Homo sapiens: one gene and its partner. The protein of the gene in region 2 interacts with the protein of the main gene of each other region in a biochemical or structural test. Each region holds a gene or a part of one and is shown on either strand. Other genes may lie near its edges. The genes, in order: DBNL and MAP4K1.

Evidence for each region.
Region 1: the proteins of MAP4K1 (region 2) and DBNL form a complex in vitro, tested with the Homo sapiens proteins (one study listed by BioGRID).

What each region holds. Positions count from the first base shown.
Region 1 is NC_000007.14:44,054,539-44,058,363, reverse strand, and holds part of DBNL (drebrin-like protein), read right to left. Parts: intron 1,608-3,825; coding exon 1,461-1,607; intron 583-1,460; coding exon 505-582; intron 236-504; coding exon 84-235; intron 1-83. UniProt on the Homo sapiens protein: Adapter protein that binds F-actin and DNM1, and thereby plays a role in receptor-mediated endocytosis.
Region 2 is NC_000019.10:38,600,769-38,604,593, forward strand, and holds part of MAP4K1 (mitogen-activated protein kinase kinase kinase kinase 1), read right to left. Parts: intron 927-3,825; exon of another isoform or gene 758-926; coding exon 673-757; exon of another isoform or gene 645-672; intron 1-644. UniProt on the Homo sapiens protein: Serine/threonine-protein kinase, which plays a role in the response to environmental stress. Appears to act upstream of the JUN N-terminal pathway.

The DNA of each region.
Region 1 (3,825 bases), on a different chromosome or scaffold from region 2:
CCTCCTCGCCTCCATGGGATGGAGCAGGTGCCCAGCAATGCCTCAGGGTGGGTCCCCCAGGCCAGCCTCCACCTCTGGCTCACCTCTGGGGGCTGGCCTCGCCACCCTGCTCCTGATAGCGCTGCTCCCGGCGTGCAGCCTCACGCAGCTCACGCTCCCGGCGCTCCTGCTCCAGCTGCCGCTGTGCCTCCTCGGCCCGCCGCTTTTCCTCCAGCCGACGGTTCTCCTCCTCCTTCTGCAGGGAGAGCCACTGCCCGCTCAGCCCTATGCTGCCACTTCAGCCTAATCCCCTGCCCAGGACTGAGTTTTAGGCACATGGCCAAAGACGGGCACCAGAGCCAGTCGATCATTAGCCTTGTGGCTTAACTTACCCGAGCCTCAGTGTGACCATCTGTAATGGGCACCAAGGAGAGTGGATGCTGCATGAGCTCACTTGTGAGGAAAGATGAGCCACAGCAAGCAGAACACTCCCACGTGCCCAGCATGCCCCGGGGCAGCACTCACCTCTGCTTTGGCCCAGAAGCTGTCTTTACCAACCCTTTTAATCTCAGACACGGCATTGGTCTTCTGGTACACAGAGCCCTGTAGGGGACAGCACTCATTAGAGACCTGGACCCAGGTGGAAGGCCAGGCCCACAGGCACCAAAGGAGAGAATACGCTAAACTTGCGACAGCACAGGTGAGTGCTGCTAGGACTGGACCCAGCAGAGGCAGCAGAGCACTGCCCAGTGACCCTCAAGGAGACACACACCAAGATGACCTGAAAGAAGCCCAGGACACTGCCCCAAGGGGGATGCTCAATCCCAGACAACACTAGAGGGGTCTCTGGTGGTCTCTCGCCCTCATGGATGGGGGCCAGGGCAAGAAAGGCCCCCATACCCCACCTGCAGACTCCTAGACATTGGGCAGTTCTGAGGCAGGCCTCTGACCAGGGGCACTCAGACAGCTGACTACCACAAGAGCATCCAAGGAATCACGTCCAACCACACGCATGCGGACGCAGCTCCCAGCCATCAGCTCCACACAGCACTGGGGCCACAGGCCCACAGGTATCTCCCGTGACTCCAAGGGGCCTGCTCTGGTTTCAGGCTCCGCCTTGATGCCTCCTTTAGTTCCTCCACGGTGGCTACCTCCAGGGGCAGCCCAAGATGTTCCAGTGCCATGACCTTGAGGGCAGCCAGACTATCATAGCCATGCATGCTGCAGAGCCTCCACTCTGACCACACAGGCTGGGCTCCAGAGGAAGGCTCCAGAACAGCTAGTCCAACCCCTAGGCAAGGTCAGAGGGCTATTCCTGCTCATCTGGTCAGTGGGCAATCACCACAGCTCAGGGGTTACCATCTGCAGAAACTAAGCAGGCATGGGCCCAGCCAGCCCGGGTGCTGGGAAGTGCATATTCCTGGCCCCCTGCCTCAGGCCCTGAGCAACAAAAGGGCTGGCGATGGGCAAGCAGCACTCACCACTGGGGCCTGGGGTCCCACGTCCTGGAAGCGGCCACTCTCCTTGTGAAAGCTGTAGTTGGCACCTGAAGCCTTGGCCACCTTCTCCATGATGCACTCAGGCTCCACATCCTCCTCGGCCCGTGCGTTGATGGTCACATGGGCCCCCTGCAGCAGGAGCAGCACTTGAAAGAAGGGCTTTGCAAGCCCAGGAGATGGGCCAAACTCCTGTCAGTCCATACAGCACGGGCCACTACTATACCACACAGGACTGGAATCAGGAAACTAGAAGGCACCTGTCTGGCTGCTGAAAACTGAGGCACGAGTTCCCCTCAAGGGCTCAAACAAACCAACTTGGAGCAAACCCCTCATTCTTGTCCCAGTTCACGTGAGACCCTTGACCTCCACTGTGCTATCCAGTGGTTCCTTCTGTAGCTGTTCCCTGCTGTGTATCAATAGACAGCCCAGGCATAATTTGCATCAAAGGCCTTCCTTCTAATCAATGAAAACTAATTTTAAATGCCATCTGGAAGCCACAAAAGACCCTGAATAGCTAAAGCAATCTGAAGCAAAAAGTACAAAGCTGGAGGCTTCATGCTACCTGATTTCAAATTAAACTACAAAACTACAGTAAGCAAAACAGCATGGTACAGGCATAAACACAGACACAACAATGGAAACTAACAGAGCACTCACACACACAGCCAACTCATTTTTAACAAAGGTGACAGGAACATACACTGGGGAAAGGACGGTCTCCTTCATAAACAGGGCTAGGAAAATTGGATATCCATATGCAGAAGAATGAAACTAAATCTTCATCTTTTACCATATTAAAAAAAAACTCAAAATGGGTTAAAAAGACTTAAATGTAAGACCTGAAACTATGAAACTACTCAAAGAAAACACTGGGTAGATGCCCCTGGACATTGATCTGGGCAAAGATTTTTTTTGGGTTAAGACCTCAAAAGCCCAGGCAACAAAAGCAAAAATCAACCAATTGGACTACATCAAGCTAAAAGGCTTCTGCACAGCAAATGAAACAATCAACAAAGTAAACAGACAACCTACAGAATGGGAGAAAATATCTTCAAACTATCCATCTGACAAGGAATTAGTGACCAGAATATATAAGGAACTCAAACAACTCAGTAGCAAAAAAATAATAATCTGATTTTAAAATGGGCAAAAGACCTTAACAGATATTTCTCGAAAGATGATATACGCATGGCTAACTACATACAAAAAAATGCTCAACATCACTAACCATCATCAGGGAAATGCAAACCAAAACCATAACGGGCTATCATCTCACCACAGTTAGAATGGCTATTATAAAAAACATAAAAAATAAATGCTAGCAAGGATGTGGAGAAAGGGAAATTCTTATACACTGTTGGTAGGAATGTAAAGTAGTACAGCCATTATAAAAACAGTATGGTTTTTTGGGTTTTTTTCTGAGACAGAGTCTTACTCTGTTGCCCAGGCTGGAGTGCAGTGGACAATCTCGGCTCACTGCAACCTCCACCTCCCAGGTTCAAGAGATTCTCTGCCTCAGCTTCCTGAGTAGCTGGGATTACAGGTGCCCGCCACCACACCTGGCTAATTGTTGTATTTTTTTAGTAGAGACGGGGTTTCACCATGTTGGCCAGGCTGGTCTTGAACTCCTGACCTCAGGTAATCTGTTCACCTTGGCCTCCCAAACTGCTGGGATTACAGGCGTGAGCCATCGCGCCTAGACAACAGTATGGTTTTTAAAACAGTATTTTAGTCCTACTAAAAGCAGAACTACCATATGATCTAGCAATCCAGCTGCTGGGGATATATCCAACTCTGAAGTTCAGCGCTATTAACAATAGCCAAGATACGGAATCAACCAAAACGTCCATCAATGGATGAAAGGGTAAAGAAAATTTAGTATATAAACATGAGGGAATATTATTCAGCCATAAAACAGAATGGCATCCTGTCATTTGCAGCAACATGGATGGAACTGGAGGTCATGATGTTAAGGGAAATAAGCCAGGCACAGAAGACAAGTATTGCATGTTCTCACTCATGTGGGAGCTAAAAAAGTGGGTATCATGGAGGGAGAGAGTAGAATGCTGGTTACCAGGGGTTGGGAAGGGCATGGGGGAGAGAAAATGAAGAGAAGTTGCTTAACAGGTACAAAAGTACAGTTAAATAGAAGGAATAAATTCTAGTATTCAATAGTACAGAAGGGAAATTATAGTTAACAATAATTTTGTGTATTTCAAATTAGCTAGAAGAGAAAAATTGTAATGTTCCCAACACAAAGAAAAGATAAATGTTTGAGGTGATGAACATGCTAATTACCCTGATTCATCGTATACATTGTATACAGGTATCAAAATATGACATGTAT
Region 2 (3,825 bases):
ACTTTCACTCTCCAACTCATCCCTCTACCCATTTTTTTTTTTTTTTTTTTTTTTTGAGACTGAGTCTTGCTCTGTTGCCCAGGCTGGAGTGCAGTGGCATGATCTCAGCTCACTGCAACTTCCGCCCCCTGGATTCAAGCAATTATCCTGCCTCAGCCTCCTGAGTAGCTGGGATTATAGGCACGTGCTACCACGCCTGGCTAATTTTTGTGTTTTTAGTAGAGACGAGGTTTTACCACGTTGGCCAGGCTGGTCTCAAACTCCTGACCTCAAATGATCCGCCCGCCTCCGCCTCCCAAAGTGCTGGGATTACAGGCGTGAGCCACCATGCCCGGCCTACCTAGCTTCTTTTGTATTTTTAGTAGAGACGGGGTTTCACCATGTTGGCCAGGCTGGTCTTGAACTCCTGACCTCAAATGATTCACCCGCCTCAGCCTCCCAAAGTGCTGGGATTACAGGTGTGAGCCACCACACCTGGCTGCCCTCTATGCATCTTTGATCACCAAATCCTGAGTGTAAGGACAAGCTCCGCCCCTGTTTCAGCCTGGCCACACCCCAACTCCATTAAGCTCCTCCCCGTCCCTGCCTTTGTGCCTTCCTTAGGCTTCTCCCCACCCCTACTTTTGCTCTCCCATTCCCTACAGGATCTCCTTGACCCTCCAGAATGCCCACCCTTGGTGGAGGGATGTGTCCAGGCGGCCGTGCTGTGGATCCGGAGGGGGCAGCCATTGAACAACTTTACGAGAAGGGCACATCCCTGGGCAGGTCGCCGCGGGGCCAGGCAGCAGATCCGGCAAAGAGAGCAGGGAACAGGAAGGGGCAGTGGTTACGACTTTGGAGCGAGAGTGCCAAGGTTCAAATCCTGCCTCTTACCTTGGTGCAATTTCCCATAATCTATCCCTGTAATACACTTTTTCATACATTGAGTTTTCTTTTCAGTTTGTTTTTGTTTTTTTTTGTTGTTGTTATATATTTCTTTTTTTAGTTTTTCCTCCACTATCCTAAATCATCAGCATTTGTTTTTTTTAAGACAGAGTCTCACTCGGTTGCCCAGGCTGGAATGCAATGACATGATCTCAGCTCACTACAACCTCTGCTTCCCAAGTTCAACTGATTCTCATGCCTAAGCCTTCTGAGTAGCTGGGACCAAAGGCGTGTGCCACCACACCCAGCTAATTTTTGTATTTTTAGTAGAGATGGAGTTTTGCCATGTTGCCCAGGCTGGTCTTGAACTCTTGGCCTCATGTGATTCACCTGCCTCAGCCTCCCAAAGTGCTGAGATTACAGGCGTGAGGCACCACTCCCAGCTGTCAGTTTTGTTTTTGGAGATGGAGTCTCACTCTGTTGCCCAGGCTGGAGTGCAGTGATGCAATCTCAGCTCACTGCAACCTCCACCTCCTGGGCTCAAGCAATTCTTCTGCCTCAGCCTCCTGAATAGCTGGGATTACTGGCACACAACACCACGCCTGGCTAATTTTTGTATTTTAGTAGAGACAGGGTTTCGCCATGTTGGCCAGGCTGGTCTCGAACTCCTGACCTCAGGTGATGCGTCTGCCTTGGTCTCCCAAAGTGCTGGGATTACAGGCATGAGCCACTGTGCCTGGCCAGCATATATATATATACACATATACATATATATATAGACACACACACACACACACACATATATATACACACACACATACATATATACACACATATACATATATACACACATATACATATATACATATATACACGTGTACATATATACGCATATACATATATACACATATACATATATATACACACATATACATATATACATATATATACACATGTACATATATACGCATATACATATATATACACATATACATATATATACACACCTATACATATATACATATATACACATGTACATATATACGCATATACATATATACACACATATACATGTATACATATATACACACATATACATGTATACATATATACACATGTACATATATACGCATATACATATATACACATATACATATATACACACATACATATATACATATATACACATGTACATATATACGCATATACATATATACACATATACATATATACACATGTACATATATACTTATATACACATGTACATATATACACACATGTACACATATACGCATATACATATATACACATACATATATACACACATATACACATGCACATATATACGCATATACATATATACATATACATATATACACACATATACATGTATACATATATACACATGTACATATATACGCATATACATATACACATATACATATATACACATGTACATATATACACATGTACATATATACACATGTACATATATACGCATATACATATATACACACATATACATGTATACATATATACACATGTACATATATACGCATATACATATATACACATACATATATACACATATACATATACACATATATATACACATGTACATATATACGCATATACATATATACACATACATATACACACACACATACATGTATACATATATACACATGTACATATATACGCATATACATATATACACATATACATATATACACACATATACATATATACACATGTACATATATATGCATATACATATATATACACGTATACATATATACACACATATACATGTATATGTGTGTGTATATATGTATATGTATATATGTATGATTAATTATGCTATGCATTTCATCTTTGAATCATTTCCAGTGCTGGAGGTATAAATTATACATACTTTTAGCCGGTAGCCAACCAGGCACGGCTGTAATCCCACCAGTTTGGGAGGCCGAGGTGGGAGGATCACTTAAGCCCAGGAGTTCAGGACCAGCTTGGGCAACATAGTGAGACCCTGCCTCTATAAAACATTTTTTTAAAAATTAGCCAAGCTGGGCCGGGCGCGGTGGCTCACGCCTGTAATGCCAGCACTTTGGGAGGCCGAGGCTGGCAGATAACTTGAGGTCAGGAGTTTGAGACCAGCCTGGCCAACATGGCAAAACTCCGTCTCTACTAAAAATACAAAAATTAGCTGGGCGTGGTGGTGGGCGCCTGTAGTCATGGCTACTTAGGAGGCTGAGGCAGGAGGATCACTTAGACTGGGGAGGCAGAGGTTGCAGTGAGCCAAGATAGCACCACTGCACTCCAGCCTGGGCGACAGAGTGAGACTCCATCTCAGAAAAAAAAAAAAAAAATTAGCCAAGCGCTACTAGGGAGGGTGAGGTGCATGGATTGCTTGAGTCTCCGAGGTCAAGGCTGCAGTGAGCCATGATCGCGCCACTGCACTCCAGCAGCCTGGGCGACAGAGCGAGATACTATCTCAAAAAAAAAAAAAAAAAAAAAAAAAGACTTTAGAGAGTTCTAATTCATTTTATGCATTTGTTGGCAAATTTGATGCCACAAAGGTGCATTATCACAACACTGACTACGTGTGTAGGCATTATGCATGTACGTAAAAACACTGAAACTTCCTGAATAAAGAGATGTTCTTTTTGTACATCTCCATTTATGAGAGGTAAAATTTCTTGAGATCTTGGCTCTTTGGGCAACTGCATATGTGGTAGTGACTCATGGAGGTTTTGATGGATCTTGTCAAAAGACTCTAACTTCTGGACTCAAGCAATCCTCCCACCTCAGCTTCCCAAGTAGCTGGGACCATAGGTGTGTGCCACCACGCCCAGCTAATTTTTTAAATTTTTAGTAGCTGGGCGCGGTGGCTCATGACTGTAATCCCAGCACTTTGGGAGGCCGAGGCGGGCAGATCACAAGGTCAGGAGATCGAGACCA